7 linked regions of the Homo sapiens genome follow. The protein of the gene in region 1 interacts with the protein of each later gene in a pairwise test. Each region holds a gene or a part of one and is shown in the gene's direction. Other genes may lie near its edges. The genes, in order: SIAH1, SPATC1L, TBC1D22B, PTPMT1, MOB3C, M1AP and COL26A1.

Evidence for each region.
Region 2: the proteins of SIAH1 (region 1) and SPATC1L interact in binary tests that used the Homo sapiens proteins (3 or more experiments, as listed by UniProt).
Region 3: the proteins of SIAH1 (region 1) and TBC1D22B interact in binary tests that used the Homo sapiens proteins (3 or more experiments, as listed by UniProt).
Region 4: the proteins of SIAH1 (region 1) and PTPMT1 interact in binary tests that used the Homo sapiens proteins (3 or more experiments, as listed by UniProt).
Region 5: the proteins of SIAH1 (region 1) and MOB3C interact in binary tests that used the Homo sapiens proteins (3 or more experiments, as listed by UniProt).
Region 6: the proteins of SIAH1 (region 1) and M1AP interact in binary tests that used the Homo sapiens proteins (3 or more experiments, as listed by UniProt).
Region 7: the proteins of SIAH1 (region 1) and COL26A1 interact in binary tests that used the Homo sapiens proteins (3 or more experiments, as listed by UniProt).

What each region holds. Positions count from the first base shown.
Region 1 is NC_000016.10:48,378,415-48,383,067, reverse strand, and holds part of SIAH1 (E3 ubiquitin-protein ligase SIAH1), read left to right. Parts: intron 1-4,653. UniProt on the Homo sapiens protein: E3 ubiquitin-protein ligase that mediates ubiquitination and subsequent proteasomal degradation of target proteins.
Region 2 is NC_000021.9:46,163,436-46,167,988, reverse strand, and holds part of SPATC1L (speriolin-like protein), read left to right. Parts: intron 1-4,553.
Region 3 is NC_000006.12:37,284,469-37,289,121, forward strand, and holds part of TBC1D22B (TBC1 domain family member 22B), read left to right. Parts: intron 1-2,538; coding exon 2,539-2,604; intron 2,605-4,653. UniProt on the Homo sapiens protein: May act as a GTPase-activating protein for Rab family protein(s).
Region 4 is NC_000011.10:47,568,004-47,571,837, forward strand, and holds part of PTPMT1 (phosphatidylglycerophosphatase and protein-tyrosine phosphatase 1), read left to right. Parts: intron 1-1,696; coding exon 1,697-1,888; intron 1,889-3,467; coding exon 3,468-3,626; 3' UTR 3,627-3,834. UniProt on the Homo sapiens protein: Lipid phosphatase which dephosphorylates phosphatidylglycerophosphate (PGP) to phosphatidylglycerol (PG).
Region 5 is NC_000001.11:46,609,964-46,614,412, reverse strand, and holds part of MOB3C (MOB kinase activator 3C), read left to right. Parts: intron 1-1,041; 5' UTR 1,042-1,091; coding exon 1,092-1,509; intron 1,510-4,208; coding exon 4,209-4,411; intron 4,412-4,449. UniProt on the Homo sapiens protein: May regulate the activity of kinases.
Region 6 is NC_000002.12:74,644,878-74,650,302, reverse strand, and holds the start of M1AP (meiosis 1 arrest protein), read left to right. Parts: upstream 1-1,972; 5' UTR 1,973-2,038; exon of another isoform or gene 2,039-2,966; coding exon of another isoform or gene 2,967-3,028; intron 3,029-5,194; exon of another isoform or gene 5,195-5,215; intron 5,216-5,425. UniProt on the Homo sapiens protein: Required for meiosis I progression during spermatogenesis.
Region 7 is NC_000007.14:101,556,758-101,560,235, forward strand, and holds the end of COL26A1 (collagen alpha-1(XXVI) chain isoform 1 precursor), read left to right. Parts: intron 1-612; coding exon 613-773; 3' UTR 774-2,267; downstream 2,268-3,478.

The sequences.
Region 1 (4,653 bases):
TATTCCCTCTAAGCTTCGGGAAGTTCTTACGAAATTGCTGTAGAGAAATATTCTTTCTTAATATCTGTAATTAAAAAGCATGATTAGGTTAAATTGGAGTTATGAAGGAATTATCTAGCTATGTCAGTAATGACATAAAATAACAAATAGGATTTTCAGTGAGTATGGTGTTTTGAAAACAGATCTTACATAACTAGGGTAACAAAGTTTAGTAATTTACAGAGTTTTAGGTGACTGCTTAAATTGTATTTTTAAGCAGTTGATTTACAAAATTTTTAAAGATTGGAGGTTCTTTGTTTAAAGAGATTTATTAACAGAATTTTGTGGAATTTCCATATTCGCTTTGTGAAATGTTAAAATCTAGATATTTTTTGTACAGCCCTCTCTTTCAACAAAATCTGTATGAAATCCCCAGAACCTTCCATCCCCCCGCCAAAAAAGGAAATTTTCCTTTTTACAATAAGTATCCTTAATAGTATTCTTCAAAATAGCAGGATGTCTAATGCACTTTAAATGATTTAGTTCCCATGGCTATAGTTACTAGAATATCTGCTGCATAAGGGCAAGAATTGTGTTTTTAATATATATCCTCAGTACCTAGTGCTCAGTAGGTATTTGTTTACTCACCTACTACTGTGCGTATTCTAATGACATTCAGATCTTTATTTTTATTTTTATTTTTTTTTGAGATAGTCTTGCTATGTTGCCCAGGCTGGAGTGCAGTGGTGATGTCATAGCTTATTGTGGCCTCCAACTGGGCTCAAAGGTTCCCCCCACCTTAGCCTCATAAGTGGCTGGGACTAGGAGCATGTGCCATCACACTGGGCTAATTTTTTAAAAAGTTATTTTGTAGAGACCAGGTCAGGTCTCGCCATCTTGCCTAGGCTGGTCACAAACTCCTGGGCTCAAGTAATCCGCCCACCTCGGACTCCCAAAGTGCTGAGATTACAGGTGTGAGCTGCTGTGCCTGGCCTCCAATCTTTTTGCCTGCTGAGATGTAGACCCATATATCCCCTTATGCAGATTTTTTTAATTGACTTTATTTTTTAGAGCAGCATTAGGTTCATAGCAACTTGAGTAGAAGAGACAAGAGATTTCGCGTGTAGCCCCTGCCCCTACACGTGTAACCTCCTCCATTATCAACATTCCCCGCCAAAGTGGTACGTTTGTTACAATTGAGGAACCTACATTGACACACCATTATTACCCAAAGATTATAGTGGCGTACATTTTATGGGTTTAGACAAATACATAATGACATACATGAATGCTTTCACCACCCTAGAAATCCTCTGACTTCCACCTATTTGTCCCCACACCCCCAACCACTTATCTTCTTTCTTTTATTGTCACCATAGTTTTGCCTTTTCCAGAATGTCATATGTGTAACTGGGCTTTTAAAATATGTAGCCTTTTCACATTGGCTTCTTTCACTTAGTAATATGCATTTAGGTTTCCTCCACGTCTTTATGGCTTGGTAATTCATTTCTTTAGGGCTGCATAATAATCTGTTGTCTAGATGTACCACAGTTGGTTTATCCATTCACCTACTGAAGGATGTCTTGGTTGGCTTCGAAGTCTTGGCAATTCTGAATAAAGCTGCTGTAAACGTCCATTTGCAGGTTTTTGTGTGGCCATGAGTTTGTAACTCCTTTGGGTAAATGCCAAGGAATGTGATTGCTGGATCAGATAGTAAGAGTTTAGTTGTTTTGCTGCTGTTTTTTTGAGACAGTCTCACTCTGTGCCCTGGGGTGGAGTACAGTGGCACAATCTCAGCTCACTGCAACTTCCACCTCCTGGGTTCAAGTGATTCTCGTGCCTCAGTCTCCTGAGTAGCTGGGATTACAGGCGCCTGCCATGACGCCCAGCTAATTTTTGGATTTTTAGTAGAGGCAGGGTTTCAACATGTCGGCCAGGCTGGTCTTGATCTCCTGACCTCAGGTGATCTGCCTGTCTTAGCCTCCCAAAGTGAAGAGTATCTTTAGTTTTGTAAGAAATTGCCAAACTGTCTTCCAGATTGGCTGTACCATTTTGCATTCCTACAAGCAATGAATGAGCGTTCCTGTTGCTCTGTATCCTCGGCCGGATTTGGAGCTACCACTGTTCTGGATTTTAGCCGTTCTTTTTTTTTTTTTTTTTGAGACGGAGTCTCACTCTGTCGCCCAGGCTGGAGTGCAATGGCGTGATCTCGGCTCATTGCAACCTCCACATCCCAGGTTCAAGTGATTTCTCCTGCCTCAGCCTCCTGAGTAGCTGGGATTAGAGGCATACACCACCACGCCCGGCTAATTTTTCTTTTTACTTTTAGTAGAGACGGGGTTTTGCCATGCTGGCCAGGTCAGTCTCGAACTCCTGACCTCAAGTGATTCGCCCACCTCGGCCTCCCAAAGTGGTGGGATTACAGGCGTGGGCCACTGCGCCTGGCCTGTAGTGGTATCTTACTGTTTTAAATTTGCATTTCCGTGATGACATGTGATGTGGAGCATCATTTCATATGCTAGTTGTTATCTGTATATCTCTTTGGTGGGGAGTTAGTTAAGGTCTTTTTGACTCTTTTTTTTAGGTTGGGTTGTTTTGTTATTGGTGAGTTTTTGTTTTTTTTTTGTTTGTTTTTTTGGAGACAGAGTCTTACTCTTGTCCAGACTGGAGTGCGGTGGCGCCAACTCAGCTAACTGCAACCTCCGCCTCCCAGGCTCAAGCAGTTGTTCTCGTGCTCAGCCTGCTGAGTAGCTCCTGAGTAGCTGAGATTAGAGGAACGAGCCCACCGTGCTCGGCTAATTTTTGTATATTTAGTAGAGACGGGGTTTCGCCATGTTGGCCAGCCTGGTGAACTCCTGGCCTCAAGTGATCTGCCTGCCTCAGCCTCCCAAAGTGCTGGGATTACAGGCGTGAGCCACCGTGTTCGGCCAGGTTTGCATATTTTGGATAACAGTTCTTTTTTAGATACGTCTTTTGCAGATATTTTTTCTGTTCTCTATCTCAAAGCTGGCATTGCCTCTCTTCTTCACATTTACATTCATTTCCTTCTACCTTTAAGAGATCTCCTTTTGGTCTCCAGCCTTACAGTCAGTTTTCCTACTGCAGTTTAAGTGAGCTTTCTAATAGGTGAACCTGACTTAAAAGGCTTTCAGTGTAAAGTTCTAAGTTCTTGATATGGTTCGTAAGTACATAGCCTCTCCTGAGCTGGCCTCTCTTGTTACTCCCCTGCCATTTTGGACTTTACTTGCAAGCCCCTCTCATCCTATTAAGCTCTCTTATCTCAGCCTGGACATCACTAGCTGAGAAGCTCTTTGTGAACTCTGCACATTGAATTGGATGTCATCTCTGTGTTCCCATAGCACTCTGCTCGGTCCCACTGTAACATATCCTCCTGAATTATAATTTTTCTTTAGTTGTATGCCTCCCCAGATAGACTGTAATCTCTATGACGACTTGGTCATCCTTGTGTCTCAAGAGTTTAGGACTCTTTCTGGAACATAGGTGGTGCTCAGTAAAAAGTTATTGAGCGACTGACTCCACACTGTCCTTATTAAACTCTTCTAGCCTTTTCGTTGTGTTTTGTTTTTACCAAGGCATAGTGTTTCTTACAAACTTCTCTAGCCTTATTGCCTGTGTTTCCCCTTTGCCCTACCTAGGCCAACTGGGTTCTTTTGTTCCTTGAACACTGCTTTAGCATCTCTGTGCCTTTGGTCATGATTGTATTTAGCCTCTGAAATGTCTATTTGTGCTACTTTGGGTAGATTACTGAACCTCTCTAAGCCTTAGTTCTATTAGTACATGAACAGTTATTAAGTATATTGCTGTTCCCTGCCTTCCCCTCGCCCCCCCAGCCCCCATGTCCTAATGCTAGAGTGTCAGTATAATTAAGTGGCTAAGAGGACAAGCCCTTAAGAGTCAGATCTGGATGTGTCTCTTGGCTCTATCACTTATTAGTTGTGTTTGTGACTTTAAGTTCCATGAGAGCAGAGACACTGCCTACTTTGCATCTAAAAGCACATTGCCTAACACAGCAAGTGTTGTAAAAAGATTAGTTGTTGAGTAAGTTACTTCTCTAAATATTACCACTTACCTTCTAGTGAGGAAAGAAAGAAACAGAATTACAAATTGTGAAGTGTACTGTAAAGGAGTCAAAGTGCTGAAGAGACCAGTGGGGTGGAAGGGAGACCTGGTGTCCAAGGATAAGGAGCTCGCCCTTTGAAGGGGGAAGGAGTACATCTTAGATGGAAGATGCAGCCAGATAAAGGCCCCATGAAGTAGGGATGAATTTGGACTGCTCTAGGACCTGAGGAGTGTTGCTGGAGCAAATGGGTAGTAGAGAGAGACAGGTTGAAGAACTGTGCAGAGGGAAAGAGAGGAGAGATGCTGTGAAGTGTTAGCTGATATTAGCATCTGGCTGTTGTTCAAGGAGATTCTAGGAGAATACCTAGAGCAATATTAGGACTTTTATTTTCTAAATGTAAACTATTTTGTTGACATTTAGCCTAAATACATATGGAAAAAGTGCTCAAATCATGTGTACAGCTTGACATTTTCACAAAAGGAACGCTATTGTAACCACCTCCCAGATCGAAGAAACAAGGAGCCGCCCCCTTCACAGGAAACCACCTCTTGACTTTTTACACCATAGATTTATTTTGCCTAATTTTGTGCCTT
Region 2 (4,553 bases), on another chromosome or scaffold:
GTTTTTTGATGAGCAAAACTGTTTAATTTGATGATGTCCAATTTATTGATTTTTCTTTTGTATTTTATGCTTTTTATGTTCAGTTTAAGAAATCTTTGCCAAGCCCAAGGTCACACAGATTCTCTCCTGTGTGTTGTTCTAGAAGTTTTATAGTTTAGGTTTTACATGTAGGTCTCTGATCAATTCCAAGTTAATTTTCATATATGGTGTGAGGTTTGCATGTAGATATCCACCTGAGGCTCAGGCCAGCCTCCCACCTCAGCCTCCCAGGTATCTGGGACTACAGGTGTATGCCACCAGGCCTGGCTAATTTTTTGGTTTTTGTGTTTTTGTTATTGTAGAGATGGGATTTTGCTACGATGCCCAGGCTGGTCTTGACCTCCCGGGCTGAAGCAATTCGCCTGCCTCGGCCTCCCAAAATGCTGGGATTACAGGCATGAGCCACCATGCCTGGCCTGTCAATTTTATTTATCTTTTCAAATAACCGATTTTTTGTTACATTGATCTGTTGTATTGTTTTCTTCATTTAAATTTCATTTATTTCTTCTCTGATCTTAATTATTTTTCTTCTAATTTTGGATTTGGTTTGCTCTTGCATTTCTAGCTCTGTAAGATGAATCATTAGCTTATTTGAAGTTTTTCTACTTTTTTGATATAGGCACTCATAACTATAAACTCTTAGCACTTACAGCTATAGCTCTTAGTATGGCTTTTGCTGAATCTAGTACATAGTAGGTTTTGGTGTGTTGTGTTTCCATTATCATTTGTTTCAAGACATTTTTAAAATTTCCTTCTTAATTTCTTCACTGATGCACTGGCCATCCAGGAGCGTATTGTTTAATTTCTATGTGTTGGTATAATTTCCAAAATTCCTTTTGTTATTGATTTCATTTTATTCCATTATGGTCGGAGAAGATACTTGATATAATTTCAATTTTTTTGATTTTTAAAGACTTGTTTTGCAGCCTAGCATATGGTCTATCCTTGAGAATGATCCATGTGCTAATGAGAAGCAGGTGTATTCTGCACCTGTTGGATGAAATGTTCTGTAAATATCTATCATGTTCATTTGGTCTATAGTATAGATTAAGTCTGATATTTCTTTGATTTTCTGTCTTAAAGATCTGTCCAAGGGTGAAAATGCGTATTGAAGTCTCCAGTTACTATTGTACTGGGGTCTGTCTCTCGATTTAGCTCTAGTAATATTTGCTTTACATATCTGGGTGCTCCAGTGTTGGGTGCATATATATTTATAACTGTTATATCCTCTTGCTGAATTGACCCCTTTATCATTATATAATGACCTTCTTTGTCTCTTGTTATAGTTTTTGTCTTGAAATCCACTTTGATATAACTATGGCTGCTACTGCTCTTTTTTGGTTCTCATTTGCATGGAATATCCTTTTCTATCCCTTTATTTTCAGTCTGTGTGAGTCTTTATAGGCGACGTGTGTTTCTTGTAGGCAGCAGATGGTTGGGTCTTGTTTTTTTTTTATCCATTCAGCCACTCCGTCTTTTGATTGGAGAGTTTAGTCTATTTACATTCAAAGTTTCTTGGTTGTTTTTGACCAAACTCACATACTATCATTCATCGATTTGACTGTGCTGTAATTTTTTTTTTTGGAGACAGGGTCTCACTTTGATGCCCAGGCTGGAGTGCAGTGGTGCAATCTTGGCTCACTGCAACCTCCGCCTCCTGGGTTCAAGTGATTCTCATGCCTCAGCCACCCGAGTAGCTGGGATTATAGGTGCGTGCCACCACGCCCAGCTAATCTTTGTATTTTTAGTAGAGATGGGGTTTTGCCACATTGACCAGGCTGGTCTCAAACTCCTGACCTCAAGTGATCCGCCCACCTCAGCCTCCCAAAGTACTGGGATTACAGGCATGAGCTACTGCACCTGCCTATTTACATTCAAAGTTATTATTGATAAAGATTTACTCCTGCCATTTTGTTATTTGTTTTCTCATTGTTTTGTGGTCTTCCCTCCTCTTTATCTAGAAGAGTTTGTGTTGAATTGGTGTTATTTATTCCTTAAGTGGTAGAATTCACCGCTGAAACTACCCGAGCCTTGAATGGTCTCTGTGGGAACATTTTCCCCCTACAAATTCCATTTTATTGATAATGTCAACTGAAATTAAGGCTGTTGAGACAAATAATTCGATAAAGGTTTATTGGAAGCCAAATGTGAGGATCAACCCAGAGGAACACACCAACAAAGTTGAGAGTGTTCTGGAATCTAAGTCAGAAGGTTTCTATAGGAGAGGCTAGGAGGAGGGAAAGGACTCCTCATACTCATGTCTAAGTCAGAAGGCTTCTATAGGAGAGGCTAGGAGGAGGGAAAGGACTCCTCATACTCATGTTGTCCTTTTCTAGTCAGAAGGTTTCTATAGGAGAGGCTAAGAGGAGGGAAAGGACTCATACTCATATCTAAGTCAGAAGGCTTCTACAGGAGAGGCTAGGAGGAGAGAAAGGACTCCTCATACTCATGTTGTCCTTTTCTTTGGAGGGTACAACACAGAGGTTACAAGCATTGGCTACAGATGACAACATACAGGTCAACACATCTCTGTGCAAGACAGTCAGTAAACCTTTATGATTCAGGAATAAATCAGCATCTTTTCAGTCCATTAATCAGCACATCAGCAATCTGAGGAAATCATGATAAGATTCTTTACTCAGGGACCATTAATCATAAGACCTTCCCAAGCAGGCCAGTTTGGAAGTCTGTTTACTTTTAAACTGTCAAATGTGACCTGTAAGGTTATCAGATATAAGGCTATTCAGAGTATCTATTTCTTCTTGAGTGAACTTTGGTAGTTTGTGTCTTTTAAGGAATTGGTCAATTTCATCTAGGTTGTCAAATTTATTGGCATAAAGTCATTCCTAATACTTCCTTATTATCCTTTTTATGTCTGTAGAATCTGTGGTAGTGGCATCTCTAATTTCTGCTAGTGGTAATTTTTGTCTTCTTTCTTTTTTCCCCTAAGTCTGGCTAGAGGTTTATCAATGTATGGCCTTTTTCCTTTGAAGAACAGGTTTTTGGCTGGATCTTACAGAGCCCAGGTTGGACTAGAAATCATTTCTAGAACCTATACTAGAATCATTTCTCTTCTATAGGATGTTTCTTCTACCTCATTTTTGCCTTGGTGGGGGGATGGGAGAAAGAGCTTGATTCTTTTTTTTTTTTTTTTTCTTGAGATGGAGTCTCGCTCTGTCGCCCAGGCTGGAGTGCAGTGGTGCGATCTCGGCTCACTGCAACATCCACCTCCCGGGTTCAAGCCATTCTCCTGCCTCAGCCTCCTCAGTAGCTGGGATTACAGGCACCCGCCACCATGCCTGGCTAATTTTTGTATTTTTAGTAGAGATGGGGTTTCACCATGTTTGCCAAGCTGGTCTCGAACTCCTGACCTTGTGATCCACCCACCTCGGCTTCCCAAAGTGCTGGGATTACAGGCATGAGCCACCGCACCTGGCCAAGAGCTTGATTCTTGATGAGAGAAATACATTGATACAGAAGGAGGAGATTACACCTGCTCTTCCACACCCCTCATTGGCCCTAACACACTTCTGTGCAGTGTGTTGACATACCTCTTCTGCAGTCTTGAAAAGTGATTGGGAAAGAAATACACTGAAAACTACAAACATCACTGAAAGGAATGAAAGAAGACATAAATGACCAGGCACAGTGGCTCACACCTGTAATCCCAACATTTTGGAAGGCTGAGATGGGCAGATCTCTTGAGCCCAGGAGTTCAAGACCAGCCTCAGCAACAGGGCGAAACCCCATCTCTACCAACCCCCCACCACCCAAGTTAGCTGGTCGTGGTGGTGCATGCCTGTAGTTCCAGCTATTCAGGAGGCTGAGGTGGGAGGATCACTCAAGCCCAGAAGGTAGAGGTTGCAGTGAGCTGAGATCGTGCCACTGCACTCCAGCTTGGGTGACAGAGCGAGACCCTTTCTTCAAAAAAACAAACAAACAAACAATAAATAAATAAACAGAAAAACACCTTGTGTTCACAGATTAGAAGACTTTATATTGTTCAAAAATCAATAATTTTGATATGGATTACATTGGATCTGCAGATTCATGCAATCCCAATCAGAATCCTAGTGGCTTCTTTACAGAAATTGACAAGCAGAAACTGAAATTCATATAGAAGTGTAAGGAACCAGAATAAGTAAAACGATCTTGAAAAAGGAGAACATTGAGGGACTCATACTTCCCAGTTTCAAAATTGACTATAAAACTTACAGTTAACAAGACTGTGGTACTGCCATAACGATGGACATACAGATCAATGCAATGGAATGGGAAGGTCAGAAATAAAACTGTACATAGATGGTTTTCAACAAGAGTGCCAAGACAATTCAGGAGGGACTGAATACTGTCTAACGCGTGGTGCTGGAACAAAGAGGTATCCACATGCCAAGGAATGAGGCTGGGCCTTACTCCACACCACATACACAAATTAACTCAAAATGGATCAAAGACCTAAGAGGTCTCAAAGAGCTGAGGCCAGAAAACTTGTAGAAAAGACATAGGGGTAAATC
Region 3 (4,653 bases), on another chromosome or scaffold:
AGTCACCACCTGCTGCCTCTTTGCTTACCAGTCATATACTTTAGGTATGTCTCATGGTAGTGCTCTCAGGGTACAGGCTTTCCAAGTCTTCAGGCTGTGGTATATTGGTTAGGAGTTAAATTTATCCTCAAAACTGTTTCCCCTCTTTTCATTCAGCAACTCTGATTTTAGCCATTTTAAATAGACAGACTTTTTTGGCACTAGTCAGTGCACTGCTTCTCAAACTTTAATGTACATACAAATCACCTAGGATCTTGATAAGATCTCACCTAGAGATTATGAGAAAATGCAGATTCTGATTTAGCAGGTCTCAGGTAAAGCCTGAAGTTCTGATGTGCTCCCTTGCAATGCTGCTGCTGCTGGTCCACCAACCACACTGTGAGTAGTAAGCGTTATCGAGCATGGAGAGGAAAGACAAGCTTACCTAGCCGTGGTCCAGTCCCTCTGGACTATGACATCAGTATGTCTTCCTGGCAGCTGCACTGCTGTTTTGGCATCTGTGACTGTAGGAGCTGTAGCTTTCAGTAGTCTTGTCAGGGAGTCTTCTGTCATTGCCCATAATGGTCCTCATGGTCTGCGGAAAGGTCTGCTCCCAACATCACATGTGGAGGGAGGAGAAGAGTAGGCCAGGGGTTGCAGAAAGTGGAAGGTGGGCAGCTATTTACAACAAGCCTCAAGAACTGAAGTAGCCTCTGCTGCTGCTGCTGCTGACACAGTCTTTTGCATAGTTAGACTGGGCACTGGGAAATCCCTGAGTTGAAATGGACTATAGTGATGTCTTAGGTAACAGAAGTAAGAACTTTCAGCTTCAGTTACTGAAGGCCAACTCCTTTTGGTCCTTCCCCACTTTTTTTTTTTTTTTTTTTTTTTTTTTGAGATGGAGTCTCACTCTGTCGTCCAGGCTGGAGTGCAGTGGCGTGATCTTGGCTCACTGCAGCCCCCACCTCCTGGATTCAGGTGATTCTCCTGCCTCGGCTTCCTGAGTAGCTGGGATTACAGGCATGTGCCACCAGGCCCGGCTAATTTTTTCTTTATCTTTTTTGAGACCGAGTCTTTTTCTGTCACTTAGGCTGGAGTGCAGTGGCGCAATCTCGGCTTGCTCCAGCCTTTGTCCGCTGGGTTCCAGCGATTCTCCTGCCTCACCCTCCTGGATAGCTGGGATTACAGGCGCACACCACCACACCCAGCTAATTTTTGTAATTTTAGTAGAGATGGGGTTTCGCCATGTTGGCCAGGCTGGTCTTGAACTCCTGGCCTCAGGTGATCCACCCACCTTGGCCTCCCAAAGTGCTGGGATTACAGGTATGAGCCACCATGTAATTTTTGTAATTTTAGTGGAGACGGGGTTTCACCATGTTGGCCAGGCTGGTCTCAAACTCCTGACCTCAAGTGATCCACCCGCCTCAGCCTCCCAAAGTGCTGGGATCACAGGCGTGAGCCATCGCCCTGGCCCTTCCCCGCTTCTTACACATCATGACTTCATAAGCAAGTTCATCTCTGGTTCCCTATTTTAGGACATTTTTGCAGCTTTCTGAGCTCTTCTAGTTCTTAGGAACTGTTGATGAGTAAGATTCTGAAAGATGGGTACCTACTTGGATCATACCTGCTACATACATGCCAGCCCAGAGTGAAACAGACTTCAGAGCAATAAGAAAAAACCCTTAATCTGTGAAGCCTATTGCCATTTGACTTTAGTGGTTTCTTTTGGGAGGTTTCCTCACTGTTTAATAAGCTATTGTTGTCATGGAAACATGTTCCACATGGGCAGGTAGGTATAACTAGATTTTTTTCCTGTGTCAGTCACTTCTTTCTGAAGATAAATTGTGTTTTCTTACTACTTTGATTTCCATTTCTTTTTTTTTTTTGAGACAGAGTCTTGCTCTGTCGCCCAGGCTGGAGTGCAGTGGCCCGATCTCGGCTCACTGCAAGCTCCACCTCCCGGGTTCACACCATTCTCCTGCCTCGGCCTCCCGAGTAGCTGGGACTACAGGCACCCGCCACCACGCCCGGCTAATTTTTTGTATTTTTAGTAGAGACAGGGTTTCACCGTGTTAGCCAGGATGGTCTCGATCTCCTGACCTCATGATCCGCCCGGCTTGGCCTCCCAAAGTGCTGGGATTACAGGCGTGAGCCACCGCACCCAGCCAGATGATTCCCATTTCTTTAAAAAAAAATTGTCAAAAGAACAAACTGGGCCAGGCACGGTGGCTCACACCTGCAATCCCAGCACTTTGGCAGGCCAAGGCGGGTGGGTCACCTGAGGTCAAGAGTTCGAGATCAGCCTGGTCAACATGGTGAAACCCCGTCTCTACTAAAAATGCAAAAATTAGCCAGGCCTGGTGGCAGGTGCCTGTAATCCCAGCTACTTGGGAGGCTGAGGCAGGAGAATCGCTTGAACCCTGGAGGCAGAGGTTGCAGTGAGCTGAGATAGTGCCATTGCACTCCAGCCTGGGGGACAAGAGCGAGACTTCATCTCAAAAAAACAAAAACAAAAAAAAACTGGCATTTGTGTTTTTGGACATGCCTTCTCTTTTTCAGATTCACATTGACATTCCAAGGACGAATCCTCTCATTCCGTTGTTCCAGCAACCACTTGTACAGGAGGTGAGGGAATTACTTAATGTTCTTTGGCGCTTCTCCCCGCATAGTTCTGTGGCACCTGTTTACAGGTTTGCGGCTAATCATAATAGTACCTTATGTTCATATATGCAGCTTTGGTTCCTTCAGAGCATGGTTTCATACATTTTCATTTGATCTTTGTTACAAATCTGTGAGCGGAATAACACTTTGAAAGGCTAAGGAACTTGCTCAGAATTTTGAGGCTACCTGGTGGCAGAATGAAGAACCCACATCTTAGAATTCCTATTCCTGTATTTGCTCTACTTTATCAAGCTGGAAGTAGTGATTTTTTAAATTGTGGTAAAATATACATAATATAAAATTTACTGTGTTAACCATTTTTTAGTGTACAGTTCAGTGGCATTAAGTACAGTCACGTTATTGTATGACCATCATCACCATCCACTTCCAGAACATTTTTCATCTTCCCAAACTGGAACTCTGTATCCATTAAATATTAACTCTCTTCTGCAGCCTCCATTCTATTTGTCTCTAAGAATTTGACTACTCCAGGCAGCTCAAATAAGTGGAATCATACAATATTTGTCCTTCTGTGACTGGCTTATTTCACTTAGCATAATATCTTTAAGGTTCATCCCTGTTGTTGCATGTGTGAATTTCCTTTTTTAAGGCTGAGTAATATTCCGTTGTACATATGTAACACATATTGTTGAGCTGTTCATCTATCAGTGGACACATGGGTTGCTTTCACCTTTTGGCTATTGTGAGTAATGCTGCTGCTAGTATGGGTATGTGAATATCTGTTTGAGTCTCTGTTTTAAATTCTTTTGGGTATATATTTAGAAGTGGGAGTAGTAGTTATATTTTGAGACCTAACAAGTTAATGAAGTACATGGAAGGTGTCAGTGGGGCTATTATGTTTTGACTCAAGCAGTAACTGTAAACTTCTTAAGATTAGGGATTTCCTTTGCAACTTTACAGTAGCCAGGACACTAAGTACTAGTGCTCTTTTAACGGAACTTTCAGTTCTCATAGTAGAGAGGGATGGTGGTTAAAATGCTGAAAATAATTTCTATTTGACTTTGGGTTATATTTATAATTTTGTTTAAATATAGATGTCTCCACTGGTGGGGTCCCTCATGTCTTACCCATAGCATAAAGAAGATTTTGAAGGTAACATCATTATTTTAACTATAAGATTCAGCTCACAGGAAGCTAAAAACCCATTCATGATCCCTTTATCCTCCCATACAGTTTTCCATGGCTCAGCACTGCTTATTCCTCATTTTAACTTGGAGATGTTCAGAGACTTTTCTTTTACCTGTGCATGCTTACTCTGAATTTGGAGATGAGGAAAGTAGTCAGTTTAAAAGGCTTCTCAGCCAGGCGTGATGACTCACTCCTATAATCCCAGCACTTTGGGAGGCCAAGGCCAGAGGGATTGCTTGAGCCCACGAGTTTGAGACCAGCCTGAGCCTAGGAGTTTGAGACCAGTCTGGGTAACATAGCAAGACCCTGTCTCAAAAAAATTACAGAATTAGCCAGGCATGGTGGTGTGTGCCTGTGCTACTGTGCCTGTGCTACTTGGGAGGCTGAGGAGGGAGGATCTCTTGAGCCCAGGTGGTCAAAGCTGCAATGAGCCATGATCGTGCTACTGCACTCCAGCCTGGGTGACAGAGCAAGATCCTGTCTCAAAAAAAAAAAAAAAAAGAGGTTGGGGGGTGGTGGCTTCTTTTAGTAGTGCATCCTGAATACAATATGGGAACTCAAACTTTATTCTCCCCAATTTTTCCTGAATGACCATTTCATCTAGCAGGCTACAGTCATCTTTTAAATTTTTTTTATTTTAACTTTTTAAGAGACAGGGTCTCACTCTGTCACCCAGGCTAGAGTGCAGTGGCATGATCATAGCTCACTGCAACCTCTACTCCCCGGGCTCAAGCAGTCCTCCTGCCTCAGCCTCCCAAGTAGCTGGGGCTGCAATCATGCACCACCACACCTGGCTAATTTTTTTTCTCATAATTTTTTGTAGAGATGGGGTCTTGCTTTGTTGCCCAGGACTGGTCTCGAACC
Region 4 (3,834 bases), on another chromosome or scaffold:
CCGCCTCCTGGGTTCATGCCATTCTCCTGCCTCAGCCTCCCAAGTAGCTGGGACTACAGGCGCCTGCCACCATGCCCGGCTAATTTTTTTGTATTTTTAGTAGAGACGGGGTTTCACCGTGTTAGCCAGGATGGTCTAAATCTCCTGACCTCGTGATCCGCCCGCCTTGGCCTCCCAAAGTGCTGGGATTACAGGCATGAGCCACCATGCCCGGCCCATTGTTTTAATTTTAAAATGATAACCCTATTTTCTACCATATGTTCCCTCAAAAAACAGTGGTAAAAAAGAGACTTATGGACAGAGAAATAGAAAGCCTTGGCAAAATATTGTACCCCAAATCTGCAGCTGAATCACTACACAGGTGCCAAAATTATGCAAAAAAATTACACTGGCTGGGCCTGGTGGCTCATGCCTGTAATCCCAGCATTTTGGGAGGCTGAGACAGGAGGATGGCTTGAGGCTAGGAGATTGAGACCAGCCTGGGCAACATAGCGAGACCCCCATCTGCACACACACAAAAATAACAAAATTAGCCAGGCACAGTGGCATGCAGCTGTAGTCACAGCTACTTGGGAGGCTGAGGTGGGAGGACTGCTTGAGCTTAGGAGTTTGAGGCTGCAAGGAGCCATGATTGCATACCACTGCTCTCTGACCTGGGTGACATAGCAAGATCGTGTCTCTAAAATAAAATATATATATATTTTTGAGATGTTGTTTTGCTCTTGTCTCCCAGGCTGGAGTACAATGGTGCGATCTCTGCTCACTGCAACCTCTCCCTCCAGGGTTAAACAATTCTCCTGCCTCAGCCTCCCTAGTAGCTGGGATCACAGGCATCCACCACCACGCATGGCTAATTTTTGTATTTTTAGTAGAGACAGGGTTTCCCCATGTTAGCCAGGCTGGTCTCAAACTCCTGACCTTAGGTGATCTGCCCGCCTTGGCCTTGCAAACTGTTGGGATTACAGGCGTGAGCCACCATGCCCGGCCAAAATAAAATGTTAAGACGTTTGCAGCTGAATTTTTTGCAGCTAAAATGTATATAGCTAATATCTTGCAGCTAAATATTCAAGTACCCAAAGGGTAGTTTAAGAACACTTTACCTGCTGGTGTGGTGGCTCACACCTGTAATCCCAGCACTTTGGGAGGCTGAGGCAGGCGGATGACCTGAGGTCAGGAGTTCGAGACCAGCCTGGCCAACATGATGAAACCCCGTCTCTACTAAAAATGCAAAAATTAGCCAGGCTTGGTGGCGCGTGCCTGTAGTCCCAGCTACTCGGGAGGCTGAGGCAGGAGAATCGCTTGAAACTGGGAGGTGGAGGTTGTGGTGAGCTGAGATCACGCCACTGTACTACAGCCTGGGCAACAGAGCGAGACTCTGTCTTTAAAAAAAAAAAAAAAAAAAAAAGGAACACTTTAAATCTTGGACATAATTCTAACTCAGCAGCATAGCTGTTGCTTGATGAAAAACCAACCATGTAGGCCAGCCATTTTAAAGACATTTCTGTCCTCACCTGGAATGGGAAAAAAAAGCATTTCTGTAAGAAGTTTCTATTTTAGAAAACAGGCAACAGTGTATTCCCATTGTAGTAAACCCTGAAACTTCCTTGTTGCTTTGCTGCTTCTTGGGAGCCCCTTATCATCCCACCCACATAGTTTTTTTTCATTCTCTTTTTCATACTGGTGGACCTGGTTCCAGGAGTGGAAGAGACTAGGAGTCGAGCAGCTGCGGCTCAGCACAGTAGACATGACTGGGATCCCCACCTTGGACAACCTCCAGAAGGGAGTCCAATTTGCTCTCAAGTACCAGTCGCTGGGCCAGTGTGTTTACGTGCATTGTAAGGCTGGGCGCTCCAGGAGTGCCACTATGGTGGCAGCATACCTGATTCAGGTACCAAAGTTCTTTCTGGGCTGGGCATCGTGGTACACACTTATGATCCCAGCACTTTGGGAGGCTTGAGATGGGAGGATGGCTTGAGCCCAGGAGTTTGAGACCAGCCTGGGCAACATGGCAAAACCGTCTCTACAAAAAATACAACAAGTTAGCTCAGTGTGGTGGTGTGCACCTGTAGTCCCAGCTACTTGGGAGGCTGAGATGGATCACCGGAGCCCAGTAGGTAGAGGCTGCAGTGAGCCGTGATTTGTGCCACTGCACTGCAGCATAGCCAACAGAGTGAAACTGTCTCAAAAAAAAAAAAAAAAAAAAAAAGTCTTTCTGGTCCCATTTATAGCAGATTTCCAGAACTTCAATAGCATGGTCTACTGGTGGGCCTTGTTGGAAGGAGCTGTGTGCTTGATTTCAGGCTGTTGGGAGGTGGTTTGGTATGATGGAAAGCACCTGAGCCTTGTGACAGGGTAACCTGGGGCTCTGCTGCCTGCCAGTGAGGATCAGCAAAAGTGACTTCTGCCTTATGCAACATGTTTTCTCAAACTAAATGTATTATGAAGTTTAAATAAGAAATTACATCAAGTGCTGGCCTATAGCGGGCACTCTAAAAACGGAGTTGCAAAAGCCATTCAACCCCAGCAAAAGGCTAGACACTTGTTCTAATACCATGTCAGGAAACAATATCATAGATAATAGTGCTGATCATTTTCAGCTTTATAGTACTCAAGTTTCTTCAAGTATTCCAGAGTAAAGTTCTGGATATTAGTTTCTGGAAACAGGCTCCAAACTGGATTCTGCCTATTAATGTGTCATAATTGGCAGGTGGGATGCTTTAAAAATATTTAGGAGAAACAAATACCCTGTAGTCCATCATCATTTTGTAACCTAAGTTACAAAATGTCTGGCTCCCACAGAGCATTTTCTAAGTCATGTGAATAGCTAAGTCTGGCCTTGTGTTACTGTGGACTAGTGTGTATATAGTTGAGTAATATTAAAATTTTGGTCATAAGGGCTCTGCTGGAAGCAGGGTCTCAGGAGGGTATTTTGCACCAAGTGAGAATTGAACTAGCAAGTTAGAAATCTGTATTTTCTTGGTTCTGTTGAGTTCTAAACCAATGAGTATCCTTAGGACATGTTAACCCTCCTATTTAAATTATGAGTTACTTGTTTTTCTAGCCATGGTGACAAGTTGCATAAAAACATCTATTGCATACTCGTTCCTAGAAATTCTTGTAACCAAAAGCCCAGCTCGGAGAGGACGTGGAGTAGGCTGAGGCAGTCTTGAACTTAGGATCTCAGCTTCCCATGTGCAACTTCCTTTTTCTAGGATTTGGCAGAGCAAGAATTGGGTAGAAAGACTGACTTTCCACCTGACCTGTTGCATAGTATTGTGAGACTGGCTGACTGCAGTGGTTACAGTACTCTCCCATTTATAATACAAGCAGCATGATTTTTAATGCCTGCAAAATAGAGTTTCCAAAGAAATGAAATCTCAGAGTCCTTTAGCACCTGCTCATGGGTCAAGGGCACCTTGACACCTGCTTCTTTCTTTCTCTGCTGATTTCCCAACCCTGTACTTCAGGTGCACAAATGGAGTCCAGAGGAGGCTGTAAGAGCCATCGCCAAGATCCGGTCATACATCCACATCAGGCCTGGCCAGCTGGATGTTCTTAAAGAGTTCCACAAGCAGATTACTGCACGGGCAACAAAGGATGGGACTTTTGTCATTTCAAAGACATGATGTATGGGGATTAGAAAGAACTCAAGACACTCCTGCTTGATACAGAACAAAAAGAGCTTAACAGGACCAACAGGGCTTAAGCCCAGACTTGACGTAACAGAAATGTGCCAATAGGTAATAGGTAATTTTTCTTTCTCTGACTTGTTTTGTTTTCTTGAAATAACACTGTTGTGTGGCTAGAAAGGAAAAGATTTAGTGTGGCTTGTAT
Region 5 (4,449 bases), on another chromosome or scaffold:
GAAACCTAGCTATAGCAGAGTGACCCAGGACCTGGATGGGCTAAATCCATGGTGATACAGGGGTCACCCAGTAAGCCAGTGGTAGAGCTGGGACTAGAACCCAGGACTCCTGCCTCTGAGCCTAGGGCCCTGATCACTGTCTCCCAAAATTTGTTCTGAATCTGGGATCCTTAAATTCTAGGAGGCAAAGTAAATTTGCCTGAGCTCTAGATGGGCCCTCCTGGGTGCATCTGACTATACTCTTCTACCTCCCAGTGCCAGGCACATAGTAGTTGCTAGAGGAATGTCTACTGAGTGTCAGGTGCAACGGGAGGAGCCAGTGGCTTGTTCAGATTTGGGGCTGGAGGAGGCTGGCTTGAGGGGAAGGATCTCCAGCTGTTGTCAGAGGAAGCGACGCCCTCATTGGCCTGCCGCCCTCCCCCTCCTCCAGTGCTTGCAGCCACACTCAGAAGCCGCCCAGCTGGCAGCGGGAGGGCCCTTTCCTCTTTCAGGGTGAAAAAAAAGGAAAGGACATTTTTGGTAGAAAAGTTCCCTGCTGCTCCCTGGGAATCCCCGGTGGCCGGATGGACTACGGGATATCCCAGAGGAAGCCGAAAGCCACCCCCGACCCCCCTCCACCCTGCCCCCAGCACAATGCTGCGAGGCTCTCCCACGTTGCACCAGCTGGCCAAGGGGGCTCCCAGAGGTCATCTCGTCCAAGCCCCTGTCTGCTGGTGGGCCTGCAGGGAGCCTCTGCGACCTCTCTCGTGACCAACAGCAAGTCTGAGGGGCACCTGTTTAGAGCCCAGGCCCAGCTCTGCAATGAAAGCAGAAAAGAGACAAAGCAAGATGGGAGGACTGTGGGGGCTTAGCAAGGGGGACTAACATAGCCTGGAAAGAGGGCGGGGCACTGGACCTAGGGGCTGAGGACTTAGATTCCAGGCAGAGGATGCAGAGGTTGAGCAAAGGCTGAGAGGTGACAGGGAAATGATGAATTGGGAAGTCAGAGCCCAGATGATAAGGCCTTGACCGCCAGCTCCCCTATGCCCTTGTCCCTGGCAGGGTATCCTCAGGTCCGAGCCCCTGGACAGCAGCCCCAGGCCCAGCTGGCCATGGCCCTGTGCCTGAAGCAGGTGTTCGCCAAGGACAAGACGTTCCGGCCGCGGAAGCGCTTTGAGCCGGGCACACAGCGCTTTGAGCTGTACAAGAAGGCACAGGCCTCTCTCAAGTCGGGCCTGGACCTGCGCAGTGTGGTGAGGCTACCACCCGGGGAGAACATCGACGACTGGATCGCCGTGCACGTGGTGGACTTCTTCAACCGCATCAACCTCATCTACGGCACTATGGCGGAGCGCTGCAGTGAGACCAGCTGCCCGGTCATGGCCGGCGGGCCCCGCTACGAGTACCGCTGGCAGGACGAGCGCCAGTACCGGCGGCCCGCCAAGCTCTCTGCGCCGCGCTATATGGCATTGCTCATGGACTGGATCGAAGGCCTCATCAACGACGAAGAGGTCTTTCCCACGCGTGTTGGTGAGTGTCACCTGGCGGGGAGGGAGCCACTGGGAGCCCATTCCACAGATGAGGATTTAGTTTGATATAGACACTCTGCAGGGTTGGGGGTTGATTTTCATCCCCATTTTGTGGAAGAGGAAAGCGAGGTTGAAACAGGTTAAGTGCCTTGCTCAAGGTCAAGCATTTGCTAGGACTTCCTGACTCCCAATTTGGGGCTTTTCTTTCTTTTCTTTTTCTTTCTTTCTTTCTTTTTTTTTTTTTTTCTTTTCTGAGACAGAGTTTCGGTCTTTCACCCAGTGGTGAGATCTCAGCTTACTGCAACCTCTGCCCCCCGGGTTCAAGCGATTCTCCTGCCTCAGCCTTCTGAGTAGCTGGGATTATAGGCACCCACCACCACGCCTGGCTAATTTTTGTATTTTTAGTAGAGACAGGGTTTCACCACATTGGCCAGGCTGATCTCGAACACCTGACCTCAGGTGATCCACCCACCTCAGAGGGCTTTTCTTTTCTAAAGCATAAGTGGTCCCACCAAGGACCACTCTGGCAAGACCACAGATGCTGTGATTCTCAGAACCTTCCAGAACAGTTGCCCCGAGGTGTTCATAGCTGATTTGACCTCCAGCCTCCCGGGGTTCCCTCTGACTCCTGGCCTCAGGAAAAGGAGGGAGTTGGTGGTTGGGTGGGCCCTGGTGGTATCATCACCTCAGATTGGGGCTCTGAGGACAGAATTTTCCCTTGCCAGGCACAGGCTGTGGGGCCTTTTCTTATCTCAGCTGGGCAGCCTGGGCGGGTGAGGGTAGGGAGGGGAGATGAGTGATGTCACCCAGGCACTGCTTACCCACCCGAGGGCAGCAGGAGGGGGTTGTTGGTCCAGGAGCTGAGCAGGCATGACACTGTGTTCATCACACCAGCCGCACCTGTAGCTGGGCCCAGCCCCCACCTGGCCTGGAGCTCATCTCTGCAGAGGCTGTGTGGATCAGCGGTGGGTGGGGCAGGGTGGTCAAGCCCTGAGGGGAGAAGTCTGAATGCTGAAGGAAGCTGGGCACTGAGTCACAATTCAATGCCCACGGCTCCTCCCCAGCCAGTGGCCTGCTGTTTCTTGCACTGTCATGCCCGACAAGGAGCACCTTCATTTTACATAGGAGGAAACTTGAGGCTACTGAGGGAAAGTGCACTGAACTGGGAGGAATTCCGAACTGGGGCTCAGATCTGTGGGAGCCCAGGACCCCAAGTCTACATGGGCAGGATATGTCTGAGGAATCTGGGCTGGGCTGGAGGGGCTCAGAGGGAGGGAAGGCTCGACCCCACCTGGGAATGGTGAGGAAGAGGAGGGGGTCTACAGAGCCGGGTGGGCCAGCTGTGGACCTGAATGTAGATTCATAGTCCCTGCTGGCCATACCTCCCTGGGCCTGTGGGACTCCAGGTATCGATGCCTAAAACCCTGGGTGACTGCCACACAGAGAAGAGGGCATAAGCCACCAAGATCTCTGCCTTGAGCATGGGGGACTATGCAGAAGCGGGGCCTTTTTCATGGGTCCCAATATCTGTGAGGGTCGCTGCAGTGCACTGCAAAGAGGGTCTGAATCCAGTCTCCATTCTGCACTGATTAATACTTATGTGGCCTTGGGCTAGCAGCTTCACCTTTATAAGCACTTCTGTTTTATCATATCTAAAGTGACAATCAGACACATCAGGCGAATTGTTCTAAGGATTAGAGGCAAAAGGTGTGAAGGGCCCAGCACAAGGCCTTGCTCATAAATGGAAGGTTCTTCGTGTTGTTGAATATTTGAAGGAATGAGGGCTGTCTGAACTAACTCTTGCAGAATTCATAATTTCCAGGATTGGGGGTCTGAGGACTTCTGTGTGAATGTTGAAAAGAGGAGGGACATGGGGTGGGGCTAGAGAGGGAGGTCAGGATAAGATCATGAAAGGCCTTGAGCAGCGTCCTGCTGGAAAGTTAGGACTTAATCCTGAAGGCCCAGGGATTTTTTAAATGGACCCAGTTGTTGAACTCTCCTTGGAGTTGTATACAAGAGTGTGATGTGAGCATCTCTGCAATTGCACATATTTCTGGGGAGAGTTTAGGTCGTAACTTTTATCATAGTCTAAAAAGGGTTGGTCAGTGACCCCCACAAGTTTGCAAAGCCCTGCTTTAGGTAATGGGAAAATGTGGAAGATGATGTATATTCCAGCAGGGGAGAGCCACAGTCAGATTTGTGCTTCATTAGAAAGAAAAGTATGGCCAGGCACAGTGGCTCATGCCTGTAATCCCAGCATTTAGGAGGACGAGGCAGGTGGATCACCTGAGGTCAGGAGTTCAAGACCAGCCTGACCAACATGGAGAAACCCTGTCTCTACTAAAAATACAAAATTAGCTGGGCATGATGGCACATGTCTGTAATCCCAGCTACTTGGGAGGCTGAGGCAGGAGAATACCTTGAACCTGGGAGGTGGAGGTTGCAGTGAGCCGAGATCATGCCATTGCACTTGCCTGGGCAAGAGTGAAACTCCGTCTCAAAAAGGAAAGAAAAAAAGAAAGGAAGAAAGAAAGAAAAGTATGGGAGAAAGTCAAACCACTCTCTGTTTTCCAAAGGGAAGTGTACTAAAAAGTGTGCTGGGGAAAAAGCCATCCTGGTTGCCTGTGTGTGGGAGGGAAAAGTTGAGCAGAGCTTTGGCACCAGGATACTGATCCCCTTCTGCCCTCCCCTGCCCTCTAGGAGTTCCCTTCCCTAAGAACTTCCAGCAGGTCTGCACCAAGATCCTGACCCGCCTCTTCCGAGTCTTTGTCCATGTCTACATCCACCACTTCGATAGCATCCTCAGCATGGGGGCAGAGGCGCACGTCAACACCTGCTACAAGCACTTCTACTACTTCATCCGCGAGTTCAGTCTGGTGGACCAGCGGGAGCTGGAGCCACTGGTGAGGCCAAGCCCTACCACCCTCCCCTACCAAGGCTA
Region 6 (5,425 bases), on another chromosome or scaffold:
GCTGGGATTACAGGCATGCACCACCATGCCCGGCTAATTTTGGATTTTTAGTAGAGATGGGGTTTCTCCATGTTGGTCAGGCTGGTCTCGAACTCCTGACCTCAGGTGATCCACCCGCCTCGGCCTCCCAAAGTGCTGGGATTACAGGCGTGAACCACGGAGCCCAGTCGTGGCAGTAGATTTCTAAGGCAGCAGCTGATGCCCTTGGTCAGTTACACTCCTTGTAGTTTAAAGTCTGCAAGGTGCTTTCTCATGACCATTATAGTTTATCACCCTCAGAAAACAATTCTTATGTCATAGTCCCCATTTCTGGTACAGTTCTTTGCATATTTTTAATAAATGCTATAGAGGGTACGGAAAGAAATTAATAGTAGGTAGGAGCAATGGGTGGTATGGTTTGGAGTGAGGCTAGTGCTCAAGTTTGAATGCGTCCCCCAAAGTTCATTTGCTGGAAACTTAGTACCCAATGGAATAGTGTTCAGAGGTGGGGCCTAACAAGAGGTGATTAGGCCATAAGGGCTCTGCCCCCATAAATGAATTAATGTCATTATCTTGGAAATGAGTTAGTTATTGAGAGAGTGGGTTTGTTGTAAAAGTGAGTTCAGCTCCCTATTGCTGTCTTGCTCTTTTGTACCCCTTGCCCTTCTGCCTTCTGCCATGGGATGACACAGAAAAAATGCCCTCACTAGATGTGGGATTCTCAACCTTGGAATTCCTACCCTCCAGAATTTAAGAATACATTTCCTTTATTTACAAGTTAGTTGTTCTGTGGTATTCTGGTATAGCAACACAAAGGGGAGTAAGACAGGTAATGCTGGGGTTGAGCCTAGTAAGGTAGGTGGGGTCAGTTATAATGGACCCTCTAACCGAAAAGGAAACATAAGCCATTTTTAAGACAAAGAATGATATGATCAAAATATTTTTACAAGGACAATTCTAACATCAGTGGAAACGATAATCTGGAGATTAGAGACAGAAAGGCTAATTTGGACTATATGGGGGGAAAGAGCTGTTGAGAAGCTACCCTTTAAACTGAAACACAGGAACTCTATTGAATATCAGATTATAGTGTTTAAAAAAGGACATAGGTTAAATAGTTCTGTTCTTACCTGAGGAACAGTTGATAGGAGCAAAATGGTTTAGTGGGACTAGAATACAAGCAGGCAACTCTTTTCCTGTTGAAACATCTAACCTATCCTGTGCCACTCATTGAAATATTGCCCCACCCCACCTCCAACCTGCATCTAGACAATGAACTGAGAAAATAACAATAATAATAATAAAGAAAACAAGGAAAACTGCTTGTACATTTCTAGCTTGGAACTAGCATTATCTTTCCCTCTCCTGTGGACTAATTCAGAGAATTCCTTTTTAACCAGAGTTGAAGACCCAGACCAACCAACTGTTAAGGACCAGGACGCTCCTACCCCATCTGGAGTTCGTCAAAGGGACTATGGGAATCAACCTCAAGTAAGCGAGAATGAGTATGAAGAGAGCGACAGACCCTCTTGGAATACAGGAGTTTGAAAAGACTTAAAAGAACTTTGTGAAGGCAGCTATAACTTCCATGAGGGCAGTGACCATTGTCTGTACATCCACTGTACTCCAATCCTAGCACAATGCGTGGCACATAACGTGCCCACCACAGATGTTTAGTGAACAAAATAGCGACTGGCTGAAGGAAATGATGTGGAAGGGAAAAGTTAAAACCAAGAAAACGGTCGGTGGGGGAGCTACTGGCATGTTTCATGGGAAGGGGTAGAAAAAGAAAAATGTCAGGTTTAGCACAGCATTTCCAACAAATAGACAAAATTCTACCTAAGGGACAAAGAAGGACTGTTCTCAGGGTATCTAGGGACTTGGAGACCGTTTTCCTGAAGCGCCACCTGAAGCGCACCCTGAGGCAGCCAGGCCCCGCCTTGCCCGCAGTGAGCCTCCCGCCCAGCCGCGCCGGCCTGAGGGGGGCGCCTCCGAACGCGCGGGCGCACGCTGAGAGCCGGGAGGACCAGGTGAGGGGGCCTCCGTCTTCCGAAGACAGGTACGGTTCTCCACGCCTCGGGGAGGGAGGGCAGCCCGAGAGCAGCCGGCACCACTTCGCAGGCTGGGCTGGGCGTGGGCCGAGCTCGGGCCAGTCCTCAGGCAGGTGTTGGTTGCGCTGGCCGTGGCGGGTGCCGGCGCAAGACTGACGCCGAGAGAGGCTCCGAAATCGCTGTCGGAGTCATCCCTCCGCATACTGTTCTGGGCGGCCAGGCCTGCGCGGAGTCTGGGCCCGGAGCTTCCTCCGCGGGGCCCCCAGGCCCGAGGGCCGGGCTGCTGATCCGCCAGGCACGGTAGGCGCCATGCCGAGGGACCACGGAGGCTTCAGGGAGCCACGAGAATTTTTTTTCTTCTGGTTTTGCTTTGTTTTTGAGACGGAGTTTCACCCTTGTTGCCCAAGCTGGAGTGCAATGGCGTGATCTCGGCTCACTGCAACCTCCGCCTCCCGGGTTCAAGTGATTCTCCGCCTCAGCTTCTCGAGTAAGCTGGAATTACAGGCTCCCGCCACCACGCCTGGCTAATTTTTTTATATTTTTAGTAGAGACATGGTTTCCCTATGTTGGCCAGGCTGCTCTCGAACTCCTGACCTCGTGATCCGCCCGCCTCGGCCTCCTAAAGTGCTGCGATTACAGGCGTGAGCCACCGTGCCCGGCCACGAGAATGTTTTCATTTCGTTTAAAGTGAACCCATGAAGTCAAAGAAAGTGTTTTGATTTTTTTCTCACATCAGGAGGGGGAAATGAGATTTTTAGGGCCTACAAAATCCATTAACTTCTTTTAATCTTTTTTTAATGGAGGAAGGGGTCCACGAAGACGAAAGTGCCTTAGGGCCCACGAAATCTTTAATAGGGCCCTGCCAGAGGGAGAACCATTGAATCGTTTATCACGCGACAAAGTGAATGAGGGCTTGTAAAGGGGCCCTAACCTAGAATGCTCAGCACGGAACAGAACATCCGCAGAGGCAGACACAGCGAGAAGCCGATCTGTGAGAGGTGGATCTCCCGGGGTGCGGGCAGGGGAGGGCCTAGTGTGAGGATGGAGAGTTGGGCAGAAGGCACAAGCAGAACTTTAGGGCCAGGGTAAAGATATTGGATTCTGTTTCCAGTGGTGTAATTGGAAGTCCTTGGAGGGTTTTTAGTTTGGGCATAACTTGGTGGTTTGGAGTGGTTCAAGGCCCAGTTCCAGTTTTAACCAGTTTGCAGGGAGAATTCATTAAGCGAGTGTTCTTGGCAAAAGTGGAGAGTATAGGGTCAGAATAAGGTCAGAGCCTGTTTAGTACTATGCCCAGACACATCAGATGCATGAATTGATGATGTTTGAGGATGTAAGGAAGAGAGCTGCCTCTTACCTCATTTAAAATACAGTCTTCCAATTGCACATTAGTGTGGGATTGAAAAATGACTGCAAGCTGAAACCATTCAAAGAGATCTTAAACACCAATGGGAAAAATTACAGTTGTTCTATAACCTTGAAAAATTGTCAAAACACTAAAACTTTCTTACTAACTGTATAGGGAAATGTAAAACAGTAAAACTATTTCATACACTAACTTAAAACATTAGAAACATTGAGAGCTAAAGTGTTTTATTTGTTGAAAAAAAACTCTCATAGTAAAACTTATGAGAGAGCAAACATTTTTTGTGTGTCTTGGCAAACTGACATACTTCTTTCTAAGTTTGGGTTAGTTTCCTACATTTTATCCTTTGTACCTTCAATTTTGTAAAATATCTCTGAAAGTTTCTTTAATAATGAAGCTTTTTGCCAGTGGCCCTTTCTGTAGGATGTCTTCATCCTTTTCATCACAATGACTTTCCTCAAGTATGTTGATAAGTTTGCCTTCACTAAATTCCTCTGGCTGCTTCTCTAGAGTCTATCAGGTGGAGGCAGTGTCAACACTCTCATAGTCAGCTGTTTCTCCTTTAACTCCACTTATGTTAGATTCAGATTTCACTCCTGGCATTATCATTTTTTATTTCTTTGCTGCTCCTTTTATCGGCTAGTTTCCTCTTTCAGTTTTTGTTTTTATAAAACATCACATGGGCTTATCACTAGGAGACAAGGAGGCGACACAACTACACACTTCTGTCTGTGCTTTAACTGACTAATGGATCTGCAGTGACGGGTCACCAACAGACTTTGAAAGAAGTGATATAATTAATTACTGATCATGATGCACTGATCACTATATTATATCAGTACGCTATATCAGTATACTATACTATTGATACTGATAACTAGTAATTCGTGAACTAAAGAGCTAGATACTACTTTATGTAATTACAGTTAATATTCCATGGTAACTGAAATTTGAACTGTGTTGTTGGAAGACTAGTGTTAATTAACTAAACTGTAGTAACTGAAATCTATATACTTGAACCATGCAAAATGAGGACTGCCTCTACTTTATTTTTTTATTTTTATTTTTTTCAAGGGTGAGCTGGTGATGTTAAACAGCAACTTTTATTAAAGCAGCAGTGTACAGCAGCAGCAGAGGTACTGCAACTGTGGAGCAGGGCTACCCCATAGGCAGTGTGCCCAGAATAGCAGCTCAGAGGTAGTTCAGCAGTCATAGTTATACCCAGTTTTAATTACATGCAAATTAAGGGGGAGTTGATGCAGAAATTTCTAGGAAAAGCATGGTAACTTCCAGGTCATAGAGTCGTTGCTATAGAAAGGGATGGTAACTTCTGAGTGTTGCCATGGCAATGGTAAACTGACAGGGCACACTGGTGGGCATGTCTTATGGAAAGCTGCTTCCACCCTCGCCCTGTTTAAGCTAGTCCTCAATTTGGTCTGGTGTCCAAGCCCTTCCTGCAGAGTTGAGTCCCGCCTCCTACCTCACTATCAAAACTAAACTCATACGTGCCTTATGGCCCAGCAATACTGTGTCCAGAATTGGTGGGTTCTTGGTCTTGCTGACTTCAAGAATGAAGCCGCGGACCCTGGCGGTGTTACAGTTCTTAAAGATGGTGTGTCCGGAGTTTGTTCCTTCTGATGTTCGGATGTGTCTGGAGTTTCTTCCTTCTGGTGGATTCATGGTCTCGCTGGCTTCAGGAGTGAAGCTGCAGACCTTTGCAGTGAGTGTTACAGCTCTTAAGGCGGCGTGTGTGGAGTTTTTCATTCCTCCCGGTGGGTTTGTGGTCTCCCTGGCCTCAGGAGCGAAGCTGCAGACCTTCACGGTGAGTATTACAGCTCATAAAGGCAGTGCGGACCCAAAAAGTGAGCAGCGGCAAGATTTATTGCAAAGAGCGAAAGAACAAAGCTTCCACAGTGTGGAAGGGGACCTGAGCAGGTTGTCCTGCCTCTACTTTAAAATGGCGTTTTCAGATGTGAGAGATGGAGATGGATAATTAAATTTAATTATACATTAAATAAGGCCTCTGACTACC
Region 7 (3,478 bases), on another chromosome or scaffold:
ATGAATGGGTGGATGGGCGGGTGAGTGGACAGGTAGGTGGGTGAATAAGTGAGTGAATGGATGGATGGATGGATGATAGATGGATGGGTAAATGAGTGAATGAATGGATAGATGCATAGATAAATGAATGACTGAGTGGATGGATGGATGGATGGATGGATGGATGGATGGATAGATGCATAGATGAATCAATGAGTGGATAGGTGGGTGGGTGGATAAGTGAGTGGATGGATGGGTGGATGGATGGATGGATGGATGGATGGATGGATGGATGGATGGATGGATGGACGGGCAGGTAAATGAGTGAATGAATGGATAGATGCATAGATAAATGAGTGACTGAGTGGGTGGATGAATGGGTGAATGGATGAATGGGTGGATACACAGATGGATGAATGGGTCAATGGACAGGTGGATGGGTGAATGAGTGAATGAATGGATGGATGCATGGATCCATGAATGAATGAATGCATAAGGGGCTGAAAGCCTGCTGCTGCCTTGCTTCTCCACGCTGGGCAAGAGCATCTCTCCGTGGCCACATATCATGATCAAATGTACCCCCAAGTGTTCCTAAGGCTCTACCTCGAGTCCACCCTCCTGCTCTCCTTCCAGATCCCCTGGCCTCCCCAGAGGGAGGTTCTGGCCAGGATGCTGCCCTGAGAGCCAACCTCAAGATGAAGAGGGGTGGCGCCCAACCCGATGGGGTCCTTGCTGCCCTGCTTGGGCCCGACCCTGGACAGAAGAGCGTGGACCAGGCCAGCAGCAGGAAGTGAGAGCCCACTGCTCCAGGACACCCTGTCCTGGCTAGAGACCCAGCCCCAGAGGCCTGAGCCGCCGCTGTTTCCTAAAGATGCCCCCAGGGGAACTGGGCTCCAGGCATGGATGATTGTGAGGACATGGGGGGCTTTGGGGACAGATAATGTCTCCAGGGGCAGGGTCTGGAGGGGCCAACACCCTCATCAGAGCCCTCCTCTGGCCTGTCCCCTCCCCTACCCCCACTCCCGGCTGGAGACGGGGTCTGGGTGGGCTGGGTGCTGGGAATGAGAATAATCCTAATACCCATCATTTATTGAGTCCCTGCTGTAACTGGCCCTGTCCAGGGAACTTTCGTTACGTTGTCTCATTATTTAACCCTTAGGAGGTAAGCTTATTATCCCCACTTCACAAGGGGACCGAGGCTCAGACGGTAGAAATAACCCTCTCTTGGCCACCAGATCACGGGTGGCAGGGGCAGGATTTGAACCCAGGACCCTCAGTTCCTGAAGCCATGTTCTCTCGACCCTGCCAGCTTCCCCTCTTCGAGAGAAAACTCAGACAGGGAGGGCGCAGGGCCAGAACGGCTCCTTAAGGCAGGCAGGGCTGCGGGGAGGCTGGGCCAGCCAGCCTGAGGGGGTAGGCAGGGTCCTGCAGGGCCTGGGGCTTCCCTTCCTCATCCCCCTTCCCCACTGGCTGGGGGAGCAGCCTGGACTGCAGCTCTCAGAGGCCAGGGAGACCCTGAATAAATCACTGCCAGCCATACGGACTTGAGGACCTTGAGAGAGAAGCATTGGGGGTGCAAGTGTCCACCAAACCAGATAGGCATCCCTGGCCACTGCCTCCCAGTCTTGCTGAGCCCACCCGCTCTCTCTGGGTCCATCCCATCCCTGAGCCAGGGGAGGCAGCATTTCATGGGCATGTCTATCAGAGGTGGGACTTGCAGCCTCTGCCCCACGAGTTTGTCTCTCAGTGGACTCTATAGGTTTGCTACTTTTGCATGACACAGCAAGCCCAGTGTCCCCTTTGCAAGCTGCAGAGAGGGAAACAGAGTCCCAGGCCTGCTGGGAAGAGATGCTCCTGCCTCCCACCTTCCAGAGTTGGGGGCCTGGCAGGCTCCATGGCAGGCACCAGGTCCCTAGCAGCCCAGAACAGCTCTGACTGGAGCCCTCAAGGCCTCTGGGGCCAGGGTCTCCGTGATCAGCTCAGCCCTGGTGTTCCTCTCTTGCTGGGCTGGGACCTGGGACACAGCCACGGCAGCAAACTCAGAGAATTGAAGGTGCTGGCGCCACCCTGGGGCACTCTGTCTTCACAGCAGGAGTGACTGTCTCCAGTGCTCTTGGTACTCCTGTTTGGCTGTGGCCTGGTCCCTCTGGGCCCTGGGATCTTCTTCTGGCCCTTGAGGCAGGTCTGGAGAGGCAGTCTCTGTCTTCATGGAGGGGTGGTCAGAGGCGGGCGGGACCACCAGCCTGTAGCGTTATTATTATATGTGACAATAAAGGTGCTCTCCCCACTGTGGGTCTGTTTGTGTGGTGACAGCTCTGCAGGAGGCTGGTCTGCATCTTACCGGCCAGGTGCCAGGGAAGCTGTGAGCAGCTCCAGCCAGGCCCGGGGTGACCACAGGGCCTCTGTGGCAGGGAGGTCCAGCTCTGCCCTCAGGACCTCCAGGGAGGGGGCTGGGAGTGACACACGATAGGCAAGCCCCGGATTGGGGCTTAACCTGCAAGGGCTCTTGGCTTCACCCAGCAAAGAATTCAAGGGCAAGCTGGAGGCAAGAGAAACAGCTTTATTGGAGGGGCAGGACTACAGCTCCATGACTGCTCGTGCAGAGCAGGGCTTCTCCCCAGGCAGAGAATAGCAGCTCAGGGCAGTTCTGCACCATATTTATACCTACTTTTAATTGCATGCAGATTAAGGGCTGGTTTATGCAGAAATTTCTAGGGAAAGGGTGGTTATTTCCGGGTCATCAGGTCTTTGCCATGGAAAAGGGCAGTGGCTCCTGAGTGTTGCCATGGTGATGGCAAACTGACATGGCACACTGGTGGGCGTGTCCAATGGAAAGATGCTTCCGCTCTGTCCCTGTTTTGGCTAGTCCTCAATTTGGTCCTGTGTCTGAGCCCTACCTCCAGAGTCAAGATCTGTTTCTTACCTCCAGAGGGTGAGGGAAGCCCCTTCAGAGGCCACCTCACCCCTCCACCCAACCACACTGTCTATAAACTGGGCCTGGCCCCCAGCTCTGCAAGAAGGTGAGTTAAGTTGGGGCGGCCTCAGGGCTCTTGGAGGAGCAACCCTGATCCTGCTCCATGCTCCTGTCCAGGTCTGGGGTCAGTGACATATCAGAGACCCCAGGGAGACCCATATACCCTGATGACAAGTCCCAGGTACAACACAGAGACCCAAACCACTGCTGAATCACCCTGTGACCCTTGTAGGTATTAAGCTCTTGCCCTGTGTATTATGTCTGTTCTCACTCTGCCAATAAAGATATACCCGAGACTGGGTAATTTATGGTAATTTATAAAGAAAAAGATGTTTAATGGACTTACAGTTCCATGTGGCTGGGGAGGCTTCACAATCATGGTGGAAGGGGAAAGGCACGTCTTGCATGGCAGCAGGCAAGAGAGAGAATGAGAACCAAGCAAAAGGGGTTTCCCCTTATAAAACCATCAGATCTCGTGAGACTTACTTATTCACTACCATGAGAACAGTATGGAGGAACCGCCCC